Homo sapiens: one gene and its partners. The protein of the gene in region 5 purifies or fractionates together with the protein of the main gene of each other region. This does not show direct contact. Each region holds a gene or a part of one and is shown on either strand. Other genes may lie near its edges. The genes, in order: CTNNA2, NOL8, CORO2A, ABCA2, SDHAF2 and SH3BGRL.

Evidence for each region.
Region 1: the proteins of SDHAF2 (region 5) and CTNNA2 purify together in Homo sapiens (affinity purification with mass spectrometry; one large-scale study listed by BioGRID and IntAct). This does not show direct contact.
Region 2: the proteins of SDHAF2 (region 5) and NOL8 purify together in Homo sapiens (affinity purification with mass spectrometry; one large-scale study listed by BioGRID and IntAct). This does not show direct contact.
Region 3: the proteins of SDHAF2 (region 5) and CORO2A purify together in Homo sapiens (affinity purification with mass spectrometry; one large-scale study listed by BioGRID and IntAct). This does not show direct contact.
Region 4: the proteins of SDHAF2 (region 5) and ABCA2 purify together in Homo sapiens (affinity purification with mass spectrometry; one large-scale study listed by BioGRID and IntAct). This does not show direct contact.
Region 6: the proteins of SDHAF2 (region 5) and SH3BGRL fractionate together in Homo sapiens (co-fractionation; one large-scale study listed by BioGRID). This does not show direct contact.

What each region holds. Positions count from the first base shown.
Region 1 is NC_000002.12:79,519,551-79,523,050, forward strand, and holds part of CTNNA2 (catenin alpha-2), read left to right. Parts: intron 1-3,500. UniProt on the Homo sapiens protein: May function as a linker between cadherin adhesion receptors and the cytoskeleton to regulate cell-cell adhesion and differentiation in the nervous system. Required for proper regulation of cortical neuronal migration and neurite growth.
Region 2 is NC_000009.12:92,304,851-92,308,350, reverse strand, and holds part of NOL8 (nucleolar protein 8), read left to right. Parts: intron 1-1,326; coding exon 1,327-1,465; intron 1,466-2,520; coding exon 2,521-2,598; coding exon of another isoform or gene 2,599-2,602; exon of another isoform or gene 2,603-2,603; intron 2,604-3,500. UniProt on the Homo sapiens protein: Plays an essential role in the survival of diffuse-type gastric cancer cells. Acts as a nucleolar anchoring protein for DDX47. May be involved in regulation of gene expression at the post-transcriptional level or in ribosome biogenesis in cancer cells.
Region 3 is NC_000009.12:98,126,638-98,130,137, reverse strand, and holds part of CORO2A (coronin-2A), read left to right. Parts: intron 1-247; coding exon 248-344; intron 345-1,418; coding exon 1,419-1,531; intron 1,532-1,877; coding exon 1,878-1,968; intron 1,969-3,314; coding exon 3,315-3,500.
Region 4 is NC_000009.12:137,018,238-137,021,737, reverse strand, and holds part of ABCA2 (ATP-binding cassette sub-family A member 2), read left to right. Parts: intron 1-127; coding exon 128-346; intron 347-676; coding exon 677-1,044; intron 1,045-1,242; coding exon 1,243-1,402; intron 1,403-2,431; coding exon 2,432-2,560; intron 2,561-2,667; coding exon 2,668-2,835; intron 2,836-2,922; coding exon 2,923-3,019; intron 3,020-3,386; coding exon 3,387-3,500. UniProt on the Homo sapiens protein: Probable lipid transporter that modulates cholesterol sequestration in the late endosome/lysosome by regulating the intracellular sphingolipid metabolism, in turn participates in cholesterol homeostasis.
Region 5 is NC_000011.10:61,436,624-61,440,123, forward strand, and holds part of SDHAF2 (succinate dehydrogenase assembly factor 2, mitochondrial), read left to right. Parts: intron 1-1,001; coding exon 1,002-1,225; intron 1,226-1,380; coding exon 1,381-1,490; intron 1,491-3,500.
Region 6 is NC_000023.11:81,208,602-81,212,101, reverse strand, and holds part of SH3BGRL (adapter SH3BGRL), read right to left. Parts: intron 1-3,500. UniProt on the Homo sapiens protein: Appears to function as an adapter protein that bridges proteins together or proteins with mRNAs. May function as a ubiquitin ligase-substrate adapter.

The DNA of each region.
Region 1 (3,500 bases), on a different chromosome or scaffold from region 5:
ATATCTAGCTATAAAATTCTATAATTCTACATGTGTTTTTTTCTTAAAATTTCAAGGCAAATGATTTGTTTTCATTGTGTTCCATTTGTTTTTTCTTTTGAAACATAAACTTCTGCTGCATAAGGAAAAAAAAACTTCACCTTCAGTGGCATATGCTTTCCCTTTCCCAATAAAATTGCAAATTTAGCTTCACAGTCTCTGGGCAAACTGTGAGGGACTAAGTAACCTGTCTTTTCTTATCTCTCCATCCTTCCCTCTCTTTCATTTTGAAACTTCTTCCTACATTGAAGGTACAAGTCAGTTGCTACCACTATTTAGGGACTCTCCCAGTGTGTGGTTGGCTTGTTTCGGCCATGCCAATGTTTGTGAAAGACTATATGGCATTTATGCATTTAGAATGAAGTAATGTTTATTTAAGAAATTATATATGCTTTAAGGTTAATATTTCTGCCTCAGGCATAGCAAAGCCTTGCTTATCCCCCTAAATTCTATTTCAGAGGACCTGGTGGTCACCAGTCTTCCTACCAATCCAGCTCCAAATTCCCATTAAAATTATTTTAGTAAAATTTTGGGCATATGTTTTATACAATAAAGTGTACCCATTTTAAGTGAATACTTTGTTGTGGATTGACAAACACACCTGTGTAACCAGCAGTGCGATCAAGATACAGAATATATCTGTTACCCTAAAATCTTCTCTTCCGACTGATCTGCTCTCTGTCACTATAGATTCTTTTTTCCTATTCTAGAAATTGATATAGGTTGAATCACAGAATATGTGCTCATTTTTATATTCCTTTTTGCATTGAGCATAATGTTTGTGGGATCAATCTATGATTTTGAGTACATAAACTTCTAGAAGAAAATATAGGAGATAATCTGTGATGTTGGATTAGGCAAAGATCCCTTAGGACCCAAAAAGCACTAATCATAAAATTTAAAAGAAAATATGCATTAGACTTTATCAAAGTTAAAGAAAGAAGTTTTGCTCTTCAAAAGACAAAAGGTTTGTTAGAACTACATGTCTCTCTCTGTATGTTTGACAAAGGACTTTATCTAGACTATGTATAGAACTCTTGCAACTCAGTAAGAAGACAGGCAATCCATCTAAAAAATGAACAAAATATGTGCTGAGATATTTCACACAAGAAAATATACAAATATCTAATGAGCACATGATAACTCTATAATTCACCGAAATAATTAAATTTAAAACCACAGTGTGATACCACTATCCAAACACTAAAATGACTAAGTTGTAAAGACTGGCAATACCAAGTTTTGGAGAGGATGTGAAGCAACTGTGATACTCATACATTGCTGGTGGGAATGTAATACTTTGGGAAACAGTTTGGCAGTTTCTCTTAATGTTAAAAATACTCTTACCATACGATCCAGAAACTCCACTCCCAGGTGAAATGAAAACATATGTACAAGGACTTTTGCATGAAAATTAATAACAGCATACTCATAATAGCTTCAAACTAAAAACAACCAAAATACCTGTCAAATTCCTATTTGAAAGTTACCCCTTTGAGATAGAAAACAAAGCTGCTGATATATATATATATATATATATATATATATATATATATATATATATATATATATATATATAAATTTTAAGGTGCGCTATTTAATATATGTTACCTGGCAGCAGAGGAAGGGGAATACATTGGAAAAGATTTCTAAAATGACAAGAAATGCAGAGGATGGGAGACATGGGCTTAATTTCTGCTTTCTACATTTCTCTTGTCTGTGCTCAGTCTGCATGTTGACTGCTTCCTCAGCCGGTGCTATGATCACTTCTTTAGTTCCTAGCACACCGTCATGCAGCAGCAGCGTCTCTTCCTGCAGAATGAGGAGGTTTTTGCCAAAAGCCCTCCTGCAGACTTCTCTCTTATGTCACTGGCCAGCACTGAATCACATGGACATTCCCAGTCTAGTCAATGGCAAGGGGAATGGGAATACCATGAATGATAGGCGCTTAGACTAAATCAGGATTTACTGGCTGGGACTATGTATGGGATTAGCCTTCACTGGGTGGAGGAGGTTAGGGGACTGATGAACAGAGTAGCAATTCTTTTAATGAGGAAGAGGTAAATGATTGTTGGGTAAGTAAGCAGCAGTGTTTGTTACAATTTGATATAGAGGCCTGCCTTGTTCTCAGGTTTTGGCAAGAGGTTGAAGCAAAAAGCTGAGATTGTGGTCACAACTTTTTATTGTGGGAGAGTGTATGCAGAAACAGGTGACAGAGGGCAACGTGGCACAAGAAGGAGAAAATTTAGATTCTAGCCCACAGCATGAACTGGAGGGGCAGGGAATCTGGACCCAAGGGAACAATTTAAAGTGGGCAAGCATACAAATAGTGACAAGCAAAGCCAAGCACATTGGGGCCCATGGAGTTGGGACAGGAAGCAAAAGTCAGTGCTGGCAGTAGTCTGGAATCCAGGCAGGCAAATTCGATTGCAGTTTGCCCATCTGTGAAATCAGGACCTCAGGCAAGAAGATTTTCATGTTTTGCTTGTTAAGGCAGAAGCCAAAACAGTAATTATTTTCTACTTTTTTTCCTAAGGTGTTCTCAACCACTCTAGATTCTGTCTTAAGGATAGGAGCCGCACCTTCCATTTTTCTAGTATTCTCCTGTGTCATTGCTGGGCCCACAGTAATTCCTTCATAAATGCTTGTTGATTCAACTAAGTCTCTGAACTCGCTCCATCTTCAAACAGATCCTCAGATTTCTGGTCATATGTAACAGCCATTTACAAATGCTTTCCTACAAGTTATCGAAACCACTGTTTTGAGGGGCACGGTCCTGGAGCCATACGTGAGTAAGACACAGTGCCTTGTCTCATAAGTTGACAATCTAGTAGGGGCTATAAGATGAATACCTGAACAGTTTAATACCAGACAGAATGATCGAGTGTGTCCTGCAGTGTGGTACTGATGCCACAGTGGCGTGGGGCAAAAATCCAGGCTGACACAGAATCAGCAACTTTGCTTCAGCAATGGATGGGAATAAGAGTATGGAGGAGGGGGTGACCTTGTATTAGTACTTTCAGATTCAGTCCTGTCTTGGTCTGGGAACTGGGACAGGGCTGGCCTGCCAGGGAGATGAGATCAATGAGCACAGCAGTGGGAGAGGTGGAGAAATCACATTCAGGAGAACTAAAGCTGGGACACTGATAACTACTCGGTAGGTAGCTGAAAAGTGAGACTAGAGTGAAGGGGAGAGGCTGGGAGTAGAGAAATATTTTGGCATTATCTATACAGAGGTATCTCAAGAATCCAATAACAGAAGATACATTGTTTCAAAAAGAACATGTTTTGTCTTTTGCACTTACAGTAATAAATGCCCATTGTAGAACATCTAGAAAATAACAAGAAAAAGAGTCTGGAAAATAAAAATCACTGCAGTCCAACTATTCAGTGAACATTTGGTGAATTTCTTTCCCCCCGTGAGTATATCTGAGTTATATAGTGAGGGTGTTTTCAAGTAC
Region 2 (3,500 bases), on a different chromosome or scaffold from region 5:
TCACTGTGTTCCTCAGGCTGGAGTGCAGTGGCACAGTCATAGCTTACTGTAACCTCAAACTCAGTCTCTCTAGTAGCTAGGACTACAGGCATGTGCCACCATGTCCAGCTAATTTTTGTATTTTCATAGAGACAGGGTCTCGCTGTGTTGCCTAGGCGGGTCTCAAACTCCTGGCCTCAAGTGATCCTCCTGCCTCAGCTTCCCAAAGTGCTGAGATTATAGGCATGGAACCACTGCACCAGACCCCTTCCCAAATTTTGAGGCACAACGTTTTGTCTCAAGTAAGCAGCACAGCCAGCCTATATCACCTTGAGCCTTTTTCAGCATTATAATCTACTTCCCTAATGCTTATTAGATTAAAATTTAAATTGATGTTTTTGATAGTCAAAAGTTGTTGAAATTAGCAGTTTCAACCTAATGCAGTGTAAACTTTTTGTACTTTATTATTTCAATATATGTGTTCGTTTTGTTTCCAACACCTAGCATGCTTTCCTACCACCTCTAGGGATTCAACTCTATCTTTCCTACCTCATAACTTTACCTAGTTTATAAAGCATCTTTTGATTCAGTTAAACACTATCTCAACTTCCTTTGAACCCTTAGAAACTTTGGGGGCATCCCTGTAGAGTACTTAAATTAGCATTTTATTCTAGTTTCTGTTAGTTGGTTATTTATATCCTGCAGTAAGTTGAAAGAGTCATACAGGCTTAGACTACTTTTGTATTTCTGTAATCCAAACTAGCTGTTTAACTTTATTCTGTGATATTTTGTCTGTTTGTAGTAGTTGAGGATAGTAGCTTGTAAAAGTCCATGATGCCTTAGTATGTGTAGGGCATATGGTTTTTTTCCCATAATACTTGTTATTGAATCAAAGACTGAAACAACTATCCACTAATATCTTATATTGTCAGATATACCATTACCATTTTTCACTCTTTATCATTTTTAGATTTACGTAATTTAGATTATGTTTAGAATGTTAAAAAAATCAAAGAGTCTATAATCACTGTAGTTATTAGTATCTTGCTCTATTACATTTGTCGATCTTTACCTTAAAAGTTTTAGACTTGCTACTGAAAGCCATTAAATTCAGACTTTCATAATTAGGAACAGAAGTAGGACTTTTCATTGTCTGGTCACGCAGACTTTCTGAGTTTGCTATGACTGAGGGTCTTTGGTTATGGAGGTTAGTGAAATGAGGTTAAAGTTTCTTCTTCCTGTCTTAATGGATTTTGAACATGTTTAGGTACTTGGTAAATATTTGATGATTGAGACTTCTCAGGCTGTGTTTTCCAAGAGAGTATTAATTATCCCTTTTCCTCAAAGAGGTAAATGAAAAGAAAACTGCTGAGGAAGAAGAGCTTGCTGAAGAAAAAAAGAAAGCCCTGAATGTTGTACAAAGTGTTTTGCAAATCAACTTAAGCAATTCTACAAACAGAGGATCAGTAGCTGCTAAGAAATTTAAGTATGTTTTATGTTCCATCCCATTCTACCATATCATCCTTTGCCATAAATGTCTTCTTGAACTCAATTTAAAACTAGGTCTCTTTTAATGGCCTGGGGAGGCAGCTGGCAATATGTATCAGACCCTTAAAAATATACTTGCCTTTGACCCAGTGATTCACTTCAAGGAACTAATCTTAAATTATTTCTGTATTTATACACTTAGATGTCATAGCAGCATCGCTTTCATTAGTGAAACAAATGGGAAACAGTTTAAATAGTAACTGTAAAAGTATTTATATAAACGTAACTGTTATGGAAATTTTCAGGCATGAAATTTAGAGAGACTAATGAAAGCCCTGTATACCATCATTACCTGTACACCAGGTAATGAAAGCCCTGTACACCATCACCTAGCTTTTACAGTCACCAACATGTGACCAGTGTTCTCTTCTATACCTTTATCCAACCCCTACTTTACACAATGAAATGTTTTATGCAAATCCCAGATAGTATATCATTTTATCTGTATGTATTTTAGTATGTTTAAAATCATTTTAAAAGCTAAAAAAATCCAGGAAATCTCAAAAGTAGGTAGTTTAAAATATTTTTTCGGCTGGGCATGGTGGCTCACACCTGTGATCCTAGCACTTTGGGAGGCTAAGGTGGGCGGATCACCTGAGATCAGGAGTTGGAGAGCAGCCTGGCCAACATGGTGAAACCCCGTCTCTACTAAAAATATAAAAATTAGCCGGGCATGGTGGCACATGCCTGTAATCCCAGCTACTTGGGAGGCTGAGGCAGGAGAATCGCTTGAACTTGGGAGGCGGAGGTTGCAGTGAGCCAAGATCACGCCATTGCACTCCAGCCTGGGCAACACAGCGAGACTCTGTCTCCAAGAAAAATCTATGTATATGTTATTTCTAGTAAGATCCTAGTTATCTTATCTGATGTTATATGGCTTCTTCTTGCTGCAAAATTAGAATCTTCCTAGTGCTGAATTATAATTTGCTACTTACTTTTTGTATTAGTGTTCTGTTTTTATCTCTTCCAACCTCCCTTCCTTTTTTTACATAGGGACATCATACATTATGATCCAACGAAGCAAGACCATGCCACTTACGAAAGAAAAAGAGATGATAAGCCAAAAGAAAGGTAAGTAGAGCTACTTCTTTTAGCAATAGGATCATGTAAATTAATCTCATTTCAGACAATTAAAAATGTAGGTAGGAACCAATATCCTACTCATTGGTCCCACTGTATTAAGATTGGTGGGGTAGGGGTAGTGCAGGTAGAGTTAGAAAGGAATTATTGATGTGGTGGAGGAGGTCTTACCTTTTAACAGAGGAATCTATAAATGATATGTACTCCTATCATTTATACCTTTTATTTGTATAAATGATGCCTTTTATTTGTACTAGTTTCTTGTGTCTTCTGTAGCTACCACAAACTTAGTTACTTAAAATCACAAAAATTATTTCTTTACAGTTCTGGAACCTAGAAGTCCCAAATTAAGATAGTGAACAGGTTATGTTCCTTCTAGAGGTTCAGGGAAACAAAGCTGTTTTATGCCTCTCCTAGTTTCTAGTGACTGCCACCAATCCTTTGGTGTTCCTTGGCTTGAGACTACATTACTCCCATTTCTGCCTCTATCTTCACATGGCCTCTTCTTTTCTGTCTCTCCTCTTTGTGCCTCTTATAAGGACACTTGTGATAGCATTCAGGGCCCACTTGGATAATCCTGGATGGGCTCCTCATCCTAGGACCCTTAACTTAATATCTCTGCAAGACCCCTTATCTAAATAATGTTAACATTCACAGGTTTCAGGAATTAGGACATGGACATAGCTTTTGGGGGGCAACCATTCAACCATCTAGTGTGGTAGGAGCTTCTGTTTCCTATAGATGTGCAGTCAGTTGGATAAACATGGCAAATATATGGAGCAACCAGTAGCAGCTTGGTTTAAATCCTTCATTTTCCAACTGCTAATAGCCACGAAAATCACAAAAGGCAGTGTGGTATCCTGAATTGAATCTTGAAACAACAGGACAATTTG
Region 3 (3,500 bases), on a different chromosome or scaffold from region 5:
TCCAGCCTGGGCAATAAAGTGAGACCCTGTCTCAAAAAAATAAGATAAAATCTAAAATAAAATGAATATCCCCTCATCACCCTCCTGCCTTGATGACAGGGCCCCCAGTTTCCTGGTGTTCCCTTGAGTGAGATGGGTTTGCCGATCATCAAAAAAAGCCAGGTCTTTGCTGCATGGCTGGGTTGCTGATGAGCTGATGAGCTCCAGCTCTGAATCTCACCCTCCTCTTCCTTCTCCTCCTCCTCAGGGAGATGGCAACATCCGCTACTACGAGGTGAGCGCCGACAAGCCTCACCTGAGCTACCTGACTGAGTACCGCTCCTATAACCCACAGAAGGGGATCGGTAAGTGAGGGACACTGAAGTTCATGCCTGTAATCCCAGCACTTCGGGAGGCCGAGGTGGGAGAATCAGGGTCAGGGCTTCAGTGCGGGGTCTGGGGAGACAGGGATGAGTCAGATGGGAGGAGAGACAGCATAGCAACACTCTGACTTGGTGGGGGCTGTACTTGACGTGTGCAACAGCACAAAGGAGGAAGTCAGGGAAGGCTTCTCAGAGGAGGCAACATTGGAGGAACTGAAAGAGGAAGCAGAGCCCAGCAGGGGAGAGAGGGATGTGTTCTAGGTCAAGGTTAAGCAGTTACCACAAGAGCAGAGATGGAAAGGGCTGACCTAGAAGAGCCTCTAGGAAGCAGTCCTCAGTTCCTTTCTAAGTGTGCTTGAGGATTAAAAACACAGCTATATTTCTGTAATCTACAAGAAACCCACTTTAAACATAAAGACATGGCTAGATTAAAAGTAAGGGACTGGAGAAAGATGCACCCTGCTAACCCTACTCAAAAGGAATCTGGAGCGGTTTGATTAAGAGCATTTGGGTCACAGGAGCTGTGGGGATGGAGATGGGGAACCTTAAGCAGAGCAAACTGCCTATAAAAGTTCAGCTAATCCAGCACTTTGGGAGGCCAAAGCTGGAGGATCACTTGAGCCTAGGAATTCGAGCCTAGCCTGGGCAACAAAGTGAGACTCCTGTCTCTACAAATAAATAAAAAAATTGAGGTGCATACCTGTGGTCCCAGCTACTTGGGACGCTAAGGCAGGAGGATCGCTTGAGCCCAGGAGTGTGAGACTGCGGTGAGCTATGATTGTGCCACTGCACTCCAGCCTGGGCAACAGAGTGAGACCTTGTGTCAAAAAGAAAAAAATTCAGCTAAAATAATTTAAATCTTTGAAGGTGAAGAGTCTGATTAATTCAACTCCATTTCCCAACATAGGGCCCAGCCCAGTGTCGGTATTTGTCCCTGAGCTGTTTTCTGGGAGGAGACTGGTCTCTGTTCAGGTCCAGGTGTGCAGCCTGGCTTTGGCCCTAACACTGTGGCCCCAGCCTAGCCAGAACCTCTTGGCCCTCCCTGTCTGCCTTCAGGTGTCATGCCAAAGAGAGGACTCGACGTGTCCTCCTGCGAGATCTTCCGCTTCTACAAGCTGATCACAACCAAAAGCCTCATCGAGCCCATCTCCATGATTGTGCCCCGGCGGGTAAGGGCAGTCGGGACCGCATGGGAGGCAGGTGGGGAACCTGTCCTGGAGAAGACAGACCCAGGGCTGTCGGGCACCAGAGCCTGGAGCCCACGTTCATGGGGCAGCCACAGAGCGGCCTTTCTCACAGCCAGTGTGACATCAGTGGGCGTCAGGAGTCCTGGGTCTCGGTCCACCTCTGTTCTTGAGCTGCTGCGTGACCTCGGGCAAGTCCCTTTGTTCTCTGGGCCTCAGTTTCCTCAATTCAGCAGGGGTTGGTGAGAGCCTGGACTCCCAGGTCTAAGGGCCTTTCCCATCTGAGCAGCCTACCCTACCACCCTCCTCACTGTCTGGATTTCTCCTGCAGTCAGAATCCTACCAAGAGGACATATACCCTCCAACAGCAGGGGCCCAGCCCTCCCTGACGGCCCAGGAGTGGCTCAGCGGGATGAATCGAGGTGAGGAAGGCAGAGAAGAGGCCCAGGCAAATGTGACAGGAACATGGCGTGCCCAGTGGCCCCAAGCAATTGAGAGGGGTTGGGCCTGGATTTTTCTTCTCTCATGACCTCAGAAGCCATGCCCTTGACCTTCAGTCCCCAGTGGGTAGCATGGTCACATACAGGTCCAGAAAGTCAGGGGGCTTGACCCAAGAGCTCAGAAAACTCCAACTCAAGGGACTTTGCCCCACGGAAAGCTTCTTTACACTCTGGGGCTATGTGGGGTGCCTGGACCACCTCAGCCAGACTCCCTGTCCCTGTTCCCCACCCCTACCTCTGCAATTCTTTTTTTTTTTTTTTTTTTTTTTTTTTTGAGACAGAGTCTCGCTTTGTTGCCCAGGCTGGAGTGCAGTGGTACAATCTCAGCTCACTGCAACCTCCACCCCACCCCCAGGTTCAAGTGATTCTCATGCCTCAGCCTCCTGAGTAGCTGGGACTACAGGCACGTGCCACCATGCCCAGCTAATTTTTCGTATTTTTAGTAGAGATGGGGGTTTTGCCATGTTGGCCAGGCTGGTCTCAAACTCTTGACCTCAAGTGATCCACCTGCCTCGGCCTCCCGAAGTGCTGGGATTACAGGTGCGAGCCACTGGGCCTGGCCTTTTGCAATTCTTCTTGACCCAAGAAGCCCTCCAGGCAGCAACCCCCACCCAGGTCCCTCTGCCCACTCTGCCTGTCCTGAGCCACTCTCCCGCTCCTGCCAACACGGGGGCCAGCCCAGCAGAAGCAGTCACCCCAGCTGCTCCCTCTCCCTTCCACCCCCACAAACTTCCTTCACCCCCACCCCAGTGGCTGAGCGGGCCTCCTGGTGTACTGGAAGAGCCTCTGCCTTGGGGGGCAGCGGACCAGGGCCGAGTCCTAGTTTTGGATAACCTTAAGTAGGTTTTGCTCCCTGGGCCTCAGTTTCCTCATCTGTAGCCATGATGCCAGCCTCCCCTGCTTTCTGGAGGTGGTGAGAGAACTAATGAACTTGGTAGATGGTGGGGTGCAGTGTGGGTGGGACTGTCCTTACAAAGCAAGGGCAAGGTCTCATGTGAGTTTGAAGTGTTTGGGGGCTGCTTCAGTGCACGCACCGTGCTGTTCCTACAAACCAAGCTTCACTCTGAGGGTGGCACACGTGGGTATTTGTATCTGTTAGCCCTGCTCTGTGGGTTTGGGCCTGTCCACAGGTAGCTGTATTTCCCACACATGTTGCATGGGTCTGCATGGCTCTGAGTGTCTCTGCATGCCTGCCTGTGTCATTGGTGCCCCATATGCCCATCTTCCCGTGGGCACCCCGTCCTCACATGGCTCTGCTTCCCTTCCAGACCCAATCCTGGTGTCCCTTAGGCCTGGCTCTGAGCTGCTGAGACCCCACCCACTGCCTGCAGAGAGACCTATCTTCAATTCCATGGCCCCAGCCTCACCCCGGCTCTTGAATCAGACAGAAAAGCTGGCTGCAGAAGATGGCTGGAGGTCTTCCTCCCTGTTGGAGGAGAAGATGCCAAGGTGGG
Region 4 (3,500 bases), on a different chromosome or scaffold from region 5:
GAGGCATGTCGTGGGACCCAGGCAGCCCCAGAGCCAGCCAGTGGGTGGGGCAGGGTGAGGCCTGAGGCCCTAGTGGTTGGGGACAAAGTCCTTGCCGTGGCTCCACGGACCCCTGTGCCCATCCCAGGAGCTGCTGCTGGCTCCTGCCCTCCTGGAGCAGCTCACCTGCACGCCGGGCTCGGGGGAGCTGGGCCGGATCCTCACTGTGCCTGAGAGTCAGAAGGGAGCCCTGCAGGGCTACCGGGATGCTGTCTGCAGTGGGCAGGCTGCTGCGCGTGCCAGGCGCTTCTCTGGGCTGTCTGCTGAGCTCCGGAACCAGCTGGACGTGGCCAAGGTCTCCCAGCAGGTGAGGCCCTGCCTGCCCACTGCCCGCTGCGCTGCTTGCTGCCTGAGTTGAAGGAGGGGCTGGGACCGCTTGGAGAGCTCAGGGCTCCTGGGCCCAGGCTGTGCGTGGGATGCTGCCTGTGGGTGGGTATCCAATGGCACCATGGCTGGTGCCCCACTCCTGCTCACCATCCCAGCTCCTGTCCTGGGCTCCCGTTACCCAGGCTGCAGACTCCCTCCCAGCACCCCTAGCTTGTGTCTCCCTGCTGCTGTCTCCCTGCTCCACTCCTGACCTATCACCCACCTGCAGTCCATCTCACCCCGCACTGCCCACGTGCCTGTTTCCCCTCAGCTGGGCCTGGATGCCCCCAACGGCTCGGACTCCTCGCCACAGGCGCCACCCCCACGGAGGCTGCAGGCGCTTCTGGGGGACCTGCTGGATGCCCAGAAGGTTCTGCAGGATGTGGATGTCCTGTCGGCCCTGGCCCTGCTACTGCCCCAGGGTGCCTGCACTGGCCGGACCCCCGGACCCCCAGCCAGTGGTGCGGGTGGGGCGGCCAATGGCACTGGGGCAGGGGCAGTCATGGGCCCCAACGCCACCGCTGAGGAGGGCGCACCCTCTGCTGCAGCACTGGCCACCCCGGACACGCTGCAGGGCCAGTGCTCAGCCTTCGTACAGCTCTGGGCCGGCCTGCAGCCCATCTTGTGTGGCAACAACCGGTAGGTGGGCGGCAGGGGAATGGGGGTGAGGAGGACAGCCAGGGGCAGGGCGTGAGCCCTGAATCTAGGCTCTGGCTCTGGAGGTCTCATTTGGCGCCCTGCCCTGTGCCCCGAAGTCCTGCCCCATCCCGATGCCCCTCCCACTCTCGCGGCCCTGCCCCCTAACGGCCTGGCCCGGCCCCCTGTCCCCTACCCCAGCACCATTGAACCCGAGGCGCTGCGGCGGGGCAACATGAGCTCCCTGGGCTTCACGAGCAAGGAGCAGCGGAACCTGGGCCTCCTCGTGCACCTCATGACCAGCAACCCCAAAATCCTGTACGCGCCTGCGGGCTCTGAGGTCGACCGCGTCATCCTCAAGGTGCACGGGTCTGGGACGCTCCATGTTTGACAGGCAGAGTGGGAGGGGGTCTCTGCAGGCCTGGGACCCCTGGGCAGAGGGTGTCGGCAGAATTGACACGGGAGGGGTACGGGGTGCAGCTTCGGATGGGACACAGGCTCTGCAGGTGGGGGACCAGGGGGTCGCTTTTCCTTTCGGGAGCTCCAGGGGCTGCTGTGGGAAGGCACTGGAGAGTCTGCTCTGGCAGGGTCCTCCGGCTGGGGGTGGCCGGTCCAGGGCAGTGCTGGTGGAGGAGGGGTGTGTCCAGAGACCTTCCAGAGTGTCTCGTGGGCGGGCAGCTGGGCAGTTTGGGTTCTGGGTGAGGGGTCCTGTCTGGAACAAGCAGAGGCCAGGGCTGGACATTGGCCTGGGAGGGGAGGGCCTGTGGACGAGGCCAATCCTGGGTGTAGAGGGGGTCCCTAGGATGAGGGTGGGACAGATGAGGGTGGAGCATTGGGTGCTTAAGGGACACATGGAGACAGGTCCAGCAAAGGAGCTGGTGGGCACAGCTGGGCAGTTGGGGGTCCGGAGGCCGTGCTGCCCTGGGAGTGGAGGGCAAAGCAGGTTTCACCTGAGCGCCGCAGAAAGGAGTGGAGAGCCCGGGCGTGGGACTCACGCTTGAAATCCCAGCACTTTGGGAAGCCATGGTGGGAGGATCGCTTGAGCTCAGGAGTTTGAGACAAGCCCGAGCAACATAGCGGAAGCCCGTCTCTACCAAAAATACAAAATTAGCCAGGCGTGGTGGTGGGCACCTGTAATCCCAGCTACTTGGAGGGCTGAGGCGGGAGGATCCCTTGAGCCTGGGAGGTGGAGGCTGCAGTGAGCTGGGACTGCACCACTGCACTCCAGCGTGGGTGACTGAGACCCTGTCTCAGGAAAAAAAAAAAAAAAAAGGTGGGGAGGGTTAGTTGTTGGCAATGGACCAGCCACTGGGGAGGTGAGTGGGGTGAGAGCCCCCAAGTCGGTGGGGGTCCGTCCAGAAACTCCATGCCCCTGCCTCACCCCCTGCAGGCCAACGAGACTTTTGCTTTTGTGGGCAACGTGACTCACTATGCCCAGGTCTGGCTCAACATCTCGGCGGAGATCCGCAGCTTCCTGGAGCAGGGCAGGCTGCAGCAACACCTGCGCTGGCTGCAGCAGGTGCCAAGGGTGCCCGCGAGGGAGGCGGCTGTGGGTGGTGTGGGGAGCCCCTCTCTGCCCGGCTCGGCAGGCGCAGGTCCCCCTCTGAGCCGCCCCTCCACCCCAAGTATGTAGCAGAGCTGCGGCTGCACCCCGAGGCACTGAACCTGTCACTGGATGAGCTGCCGCCGGCCCTGAGACAGGACAACTTCTCGCTGCCCAGTGGCATGGCCCTCCTGCAGCAGCTGGATACCATTGACAACGCGGCCTGCGGCTGGATCCAGTTCATGTCCAAGGTGAGCGGTGGGGCCTCCGAGCCAACCCACGACACCCCCTGCCTCGCACATGCCCACGGCGGGCTCCAGCGATGCCCCTCCCGCTAGGTGAGCGTGGACATCTTCAAGGGCTTCCCCGACGAGGAGAGCATTGTCAACTACACCCTCAACCAGGCCTACCAGGACAACGTCACTGTTTTTGCCAGTGAGCTGCCCTCCCCGCCCCGCCCCAGCCCCCCACAGACCTCTTCCTCCCCAGCCCAGCCCCACCCGTCCCCCTGTGCCCTCCCACTCCTTGGCCGCGCCCTGGCCTTCCCCCCTCACCCGCCACTTCCCCTCCCCACCCCTGCCCCTTCCAAACGGCCCCAACCCACAACCCGCCCCCTCCCTGCACCTCCCCACTTCTGCCCACCTTTCCCCTGGGGCCCCCACCCCAGCCCTGTCCCACCTTTCCCTGGACCCTCCTGTCCCCGCCCCCACACCTTGGCCCCGCCCCCGTGCCTTGCTTTCCCCCCCACCACGCCTTGGTCCCGCCCCTGCATCTTGGCCCCGCCCCAACCTCCCGGCCCCAGGTGTGATCTTCCAGACCCGGAAGGACGGCTCGCTCCCGCCTCACGTGCACTACAAGATCCGCCAGAACTCCAGCTTCACCGAGAAAACCAACGAGATCCGCCGCGCCTACTGGC
Region 5 (3,500 bases):
TCATGATCATGCTTGAGCAGGGAGGGAAGAGACTATGGCAAATGAGTGCTACAAATTTTTCTGCTGGATTCGATGCAGCTGGTTTTGTGCTCACCTGGGGAGCAGGAGCCTCTTACTGGTTTCTGGATTTCTCACAGGGAATTGGTTTGTTTGTTGCTGTTGGCTCAGTGTCTCCATCGGGGAAGGAGGATCTGGGGTTTCCTACTCCACCATCTTCACCTCTTGCTGAGGTCACCACCTTGACATCATATCTTGATAAGTTGTCAACTTCTCTGGATTGGGAGCCTTTGGGGGATTAGGGATCATGCTGTCTCTGTGTGCTCAGGATTTGACACAGGTGAGTGAGTAGAGTATAAACCACACTGTAAGAATTTTAAGGGAGTGCAAAGGAAGGAAAAATTATTTCTGCTGGGATAGTTTCTGGAAAGGCACTGGTTAGGGACACATTTGCAGTTAGGACTGTGTTTTAATTCTAATTGCAGTTACTATTTGGATGATTTTGGGTGAGTTATTGAACCTTCCTGAGCCTCTGTTTCCTTGGCTATAAAGTGGGGACAATATCAGCATAATTTCTTTTCTTTTTTCAGGGGGATAGGGTCCGTTGCCCAGGCTGGAATGCAGTGGTACGATCACAGCTCACTGCAGCGTTGACCTTCCCAGGCTCAGATGATCTTCCCACTTCAGCCTCCTGAGTAGCTGGGACCACAGGCACCATGGTGGGACTACCCCACTATGCCTGGCTAATTTTTGTATTTTTGGTAGAGACAGGGTCTCGCTATGTTGCTCAGGCTGGTCTCGAACTCCTGAACTCAAGTAATCATGCTCGCGTTGACCTCCCAAAGTGCTGGGATTACAGGTGTGCGCCACCACGCCTGGCCAGCAGTGTAATTTCCTCATGACTAAATGTGATTGAATGCATTCAGCACCTAGTAAGCATTGAGTAAATGATAGCGATGATAGTCGTCATTATTGTAAAGATGTTTGTGGTTTGTTCATTTCAGATGCTTGCTCTGTCAAGGCACAGCCTATTGTCTCCTTTGCTCAGTGTGACATCATTCAGACGCTTCTACAGAGGTGACAGCCCAACAGATTCCCAAAAGGACATGATTGAAATCCCTTTGCCTCCATGGCAGGAGAGAACTGATGAATCCATAGAAACCAAAAGAGCCCGCCTGCTCTATGAGAGCAGAAAGAGGGGAATGTTGGAAAACTGCATTCTTCTTAGGTATGGGACTAGGAGTCTTTTTTTTTAAATCGGGCAGCTTCCTGAGCCAGAGTAGGTTCAGAGAGACTCCCAGGAGTAGGAGTCTTGGTGTCACTTCTCTTTTATTAGACACAGCCTTCTCAACCTCTTTTTCTTTTTTTCTTTCTTGTTTTTAGTCTTTTTGCTAAAGAACATCTGCAGCACATGACAGAAAAGCAGCTGAACCTCTATGACCGCCTGATTAACGAGCCTAGTAATGACTGGGATATTTACTACTGGGCCACAGGTACTGGGTATGATAAGCAGCATAATGTGAAAATAGGACAGTTTAGGCTGATTTGAGTCTAGAATTGTATCCTAGATAATTTTTTTCTTTCTTTTTTTTTTTTGAGACTGAGTTTCACTCTCGTTGCCCAGGCTGGAGTGCAATGGCATGATCTCGGCTCACTGCAACCTCTACCTTCCAGGTTCAAGCGATTCTCCAGCCTCAGCCTCCTGAGTACCTGGGATTACAGGCATGTGTCACCACACCCGGGTAATTTTATATTTTTAATAGAGACAGGGTTTCTCTGTGTTGGTCAGGCTAGTCTCGAACTCCTGACCTCAGGTGATCCGCCCGCCTCGGCCTCCCAAAATCCTGGGATTACAGGCATGAGCCACTGTGCCTGGCTTATAATTTTTTTCTTTTATTCATGAAGTAGACACTCAACCCAAACACTGTTCAAATTTTTGTTAAGTGTACAAAATTTATCAGTTAAAGTTCTTTATTTGCGAGACAGAGTGGAAACTTGTTTGTCTCACTTAAGCAAAAAGGAATTTAGTGGAAGGGTATATGAAGCTCACAGTATCAAAGGTTGAAGAAGAACCACTCTGGGAATGGAGTGGAATCAGACAACTAAGTCTGCATAGCCAAAGCTCCTCAATAGTTTCATTCTGGCCGGCCGCAGTGGCTCATGCCTCTAATCTGAGCACTTTGGGAGGCTGAGGCGGATGGATCGCTTGAGGTTAGGAGCTTGAGAGCAGCCTGGCCAACACAGCGAAACCTCATCTCTCCAAAAATTCAAAAATTAGCCGAACATGGTGGCGGACAACTGCAGTCTCAGCTACTTGGGAGGCTGAGGCAAGAGAATCGCTTGAGCCTGGGAGACAGAGATTGCAGTGAGCTGAGATTGCACCACTGCACTCCATCCTGGGCAAAAGAGTGAGACTATGTCTCAAAAAAAAAAAAGTTTCATTCAGGCACTACCTTTATGAGGAATGAATTCTAACTGTGTATAGTTAGGATTAACTTTGGCTATGAGTAAAAAAACATCCAAAACAGTAATGGCTTAAACAAGGTAGAACTGTCTTTCTCATGACAGAAGTCCAGAGGAAGGCACACTCCAGAGCTCATAGAGGGGCTTCAAAAAGTCATGGGTCCAGGTCCCCCCTACTTGCTGCTCTTTCATCCTAGCATGTGTTTTCTACTTCTTGATCCAGGACAGCCATATTTCAGCCCGGAAAAAGTGTGTGGAAGTGCATACCCCTCCTTTGTAGATCCCGCTCAGGAAATTATCCAGCATACTTCCACTTATTTGCCATTGGCCACAGCTTAGTTACTTGGCTACGTCTAACCATAAGGAAAAATAATATAGTCTATTCCATCTGCCCAGCTGTGTTGGAGATTCTGTTATCGATGAAAACTGGATATTAGGGGACGTGTCATTCATTCTGCCACACTCCGGGACTGCTGTTTTTGTGTCTCCACTCAATATTTGTATCAGAAAGTAGCAGCCATTGTCTATGGGTTCCAGGTATGAAGAGTGATAAGACAGAGTCTGGAGCCTTATACAATCACTGGAAAGCCAACAAAGTCCAAATATTTACTCTCCAACCCTTTACAGAACAAGTTTGCCCTGACTTAGCATAATGCATTTGAGATGCGTATCCTTGTTGTTACTTGTATCAATAGTTCATTCTTTTGTGTTGAGTAATATTCCATTGTGTGGATGTACCATGGTCTGTTCATCTTTTGACCAGCTGAGGGACATTAGGATTATTTCCAGCTTTAGGTGATTATAAATGAAGCCACTGTAAACATTTGCATACAGATTTTGTGAACATAGGTTTTAGTTTTTCTTGAGTGAATACTCAGGAGAAGGATTTGCTGGGTCATGTGGTAAGTGTATATGTTTAACTTTATAATAGGGCCAGGTGTGGTAGCTCATGCCTGTAATTTCAGCATGAGATCACATGCTCCTCCTCTGGGAAGCCGAGGCAGGTGGATCACTTGAGGCCAGGAGTTCGAGACCAGCCT
Region 6 (3,500 bases), on a different chromosome or scaffold from region 5:
CTTGTTTCAAGTAGAAATTCACTGAAAATATTTCACCCCAACTACTGAATCCTTTGAGAAGTTAAAATTATTTACCTGAATCACAAGACCAATTATGTTTTTTCTGAAAGTCTGAGATCAGATTTCATTATTTTTAGTAATAAATTTCCAACAACACTTTGTATTAGGGTTCTCTTAGAGGGGCAGAAGTAGTAGGATATATGTGTGTATATACATATATATATATGGAGTTTATTAAGTATTAACTTACATGATCACAAGGTTCCACAATAGGCTTTCTGCAAGCTGAGGATCAAGGAGAGCCAGTCCAAGTCCCAAAACTGAAGAACTTGAAGTCCGACGTTCAAAGGCAGGAAGCGTCCAGCACGGGAGAAACATGTAAAGTGGGAGGCTAGGCCTGTCTCTCTTTTTCACGTTTTTCTACCTGCTTTATATTTGCTGGAAGCTGATTAGATTGTGCCCAGCAGATTTAGGGTGGATCTGCCTTCCCCAACTCACTGACTTTTTTTTTTTTTGAGACGGAGTCTCGCTCTGTAGCCCAGGCTGGAGTGCAGTGGCACGATCTCGGATCACTGCAAGCTCCGCCTCCCGGGTTCACACCATTCTCCTGCCTCAGCCTCCCGAGTAGCTGGGACTACAGGCGCCCGCCACCACGCCCGGCTAATTTTTTTTGTATTTTCAGTAGAGACGGGGTTTCACCCTGTTAGCCAGGATGGTCTTGATCTCCTGACCTCGTGATCCGCCCGCCTCGGCCCCCACAAAGTGCTGAGATTACAGGCGTGAGCCACCGCGCCCGGCCTCAAATGTTAATCTCTTTTGGCAACACCCACACAGACAGTACCCAGGATTAATACTTTGTATCCCTCAATCCAATCAAGTTGACACTCAGTATTAACCATCACACACTTCTAGAAGCTTTCTTTCATGATACTCTTCATTTTAAGTTACTCATATTCAGCTTGTGAGAATGATGAGAGGCAAAGAAAGTTTTATGACCTACTCAAATCACACAGGCAATAGCCAATAAAACATATCTCACCCTTACAGCTAAAAAAGCTTTAAAATCCCTTCAAAAAACAATTCATCTTATCTACTTTTCATTAGATTGCAATAAAATGATTTTCTTAAATTGAGATAAAGGTACATGTTCTGCATTCTAACTAATAGTATAGGCTGAGCTCTTATAACTTTGATTGTCTCCTCTGATAAACTCAAGTTCTCCACTTGATGTAACAGACCACCAGAATTATCCTTAGTATTTCTATAGACCACGTATTGCTATAGACCAGTTAATTAAGAAGTATTTTTCATGGTTTTTCAAGTTCATCAGAAAAGAAGTATTACAACGACTTGTAAATCAGTTTCAGAGCTGCATTCAGAGTGGGTAATTAGTGAATATCATCAAGTGGGAAGAATAGCATAGGGCTTCAGATCATGGGCCCTGGAATCAGACAAACCTGGGGGGTACTTTACTAGCTCTGTGACCTGGCTAGTTCTCTGAGCCTCTCTTCTTAAAAACAGAGATAATAAGAGTACTAGCTTCATTGAATTGTCAGAAAAATGAAACAATACATGTAAAGTTCTTACCGGTGTGCCTGACTCAATGAATTATAGCTCTTAATATTATTACCCACTAAAGCTGACAATTTGCATGAGAAATTAAAGTAAGATGATTGATCATATGTTTAATAAATTAAGTAATTATATATGCTTGTCTTCCTTCTAAATCAAATTTGATATAACATACTGAAGAGAACGGTCTCCAATATCATACAACTACTATTAAATATATATTTACAGATAATTTTAACAGAAAAACATGCTGCACTTATAATGAAACAACTGGCTGAAAGGTGATGGTGAAACAGAAAATTTTCTCATGTAGTAAATGTTACCTAAGATGAATATTCTCTGGTGTTTGAAAGGTGAAATTTTATTTGTCTTGACTCATTTTTGGAAATCCCCCAAGCAGAAAGGCTTGGCTAGACCCTAACTCTAGGATAGGGTCTCATTTCCAAAAAGGACTAAGCCAAAGGGACAGAAATCAAGGACTAGAGTCTAAAACCAGAGTTTACAAGTTATAGCAGTACTGCCTTCCTGGTTAATTTAGATTTACAGAATCATAGAAACCACCTTTTAATTATGTTGGTCTATAGCCACATAACATGCAAGAGAATCAGTCATAAAAATTCAGTATGTAACACAGGCCAGCATAAGAAAGTACAGACAAATATTATTTTTAAGTGTGCCCTCGATGAATTCATTTGATTTTAAAAAAAGAACCACATTTTAAAAGAACATGGTGCTACTATCCTCCCTACACCCAGCCTGCCCACCAGTGCCAACTCTCATCTCACTCTCGAGTACGGGTTATGAATGAGAACACATTTGCCTACTTAGACATCATCCCCTCTTGAATGGCAATTGTATTTCAAAATCATATAACAGGATTTTTATGTAGTATTGACAATTTCTATTCAATACCTATAAACAGAGGATGTGTAAATAACACAGTGTTTAGGAGTGGGTTCTGAAGTCCGAACAACCAGAGTTCTGATCACAGCCCTGTCATTTCTAGCTCTTCAGTCTTGACCAATGTACCTATGTTTCTGGATCTTAGAGATACCCCCTCCAATTAGGTAAAATGAATCTAATAGTAGTTATTACTATGTTAAAATATTATTGTAAAGATAAATTAAGTAAAATAATGTAGGTAAAGCCCTGGGCACCTTGCCTGACATATACAATGCATAAATAAGTGTTGTCTTTACTATTACTAAAGTCAAATCTTAGCAGCTGAGCATGGTGGCTCACGCGTGTAATCCCAGCACTTTGGAAGGTCGAGGAGGGCGGATCACTTTAGCTGAAGAGTTTGTGACCAGCCTGGGCAACGTGGTGAAAACCTGTCTCTACCAAAAATACAAAAGTTATCTGGGCCTGGTGGTGCATGTCTGTGGTCCCAGCTACTTGAGAGGTTGAAGCAGGAAGATCGCTTGAGCCTGGGAGGCAGAGATTGCAGTGAGCCAAGATCATGCCATCACACCACAGCCTGGGTGACAGAGTGAGACTCCGTCTTAAAAAAAAAAAAAAAAAAAAAAACTTAGTTATGCTAACGAAAGGGCAATACAACAACAAAAAACCTAGCATCATTGAACACTTAAATATACAGTCTTTGAATTTGTTATGATATTTTTAAACTTATATTTGAATTTTTTGCCTGATGTTCTGGCAATCTGCAAGATTTCAAGCAAACCTAATAAAACCAACAGGCAAGACCTGGGCTAGAAAAAAATCTCCTTGCTTAAAATTCTTCTCTGCTGCCCAAGTGTAAAAGGTCAGGTTTGTCTCTCATATTAATGAAAACAGTCATCATAAATGAACCGCCTCGTCTCTCTAAATGTACTTTTGTTTAACCTTGGTCTGGATTGAAGAAAGTAATTAAAGACTGGGTTTAAAAGGCCTCCTAGTGGGCCGCAAAGTAGATCTGAAAGCAAACAGAT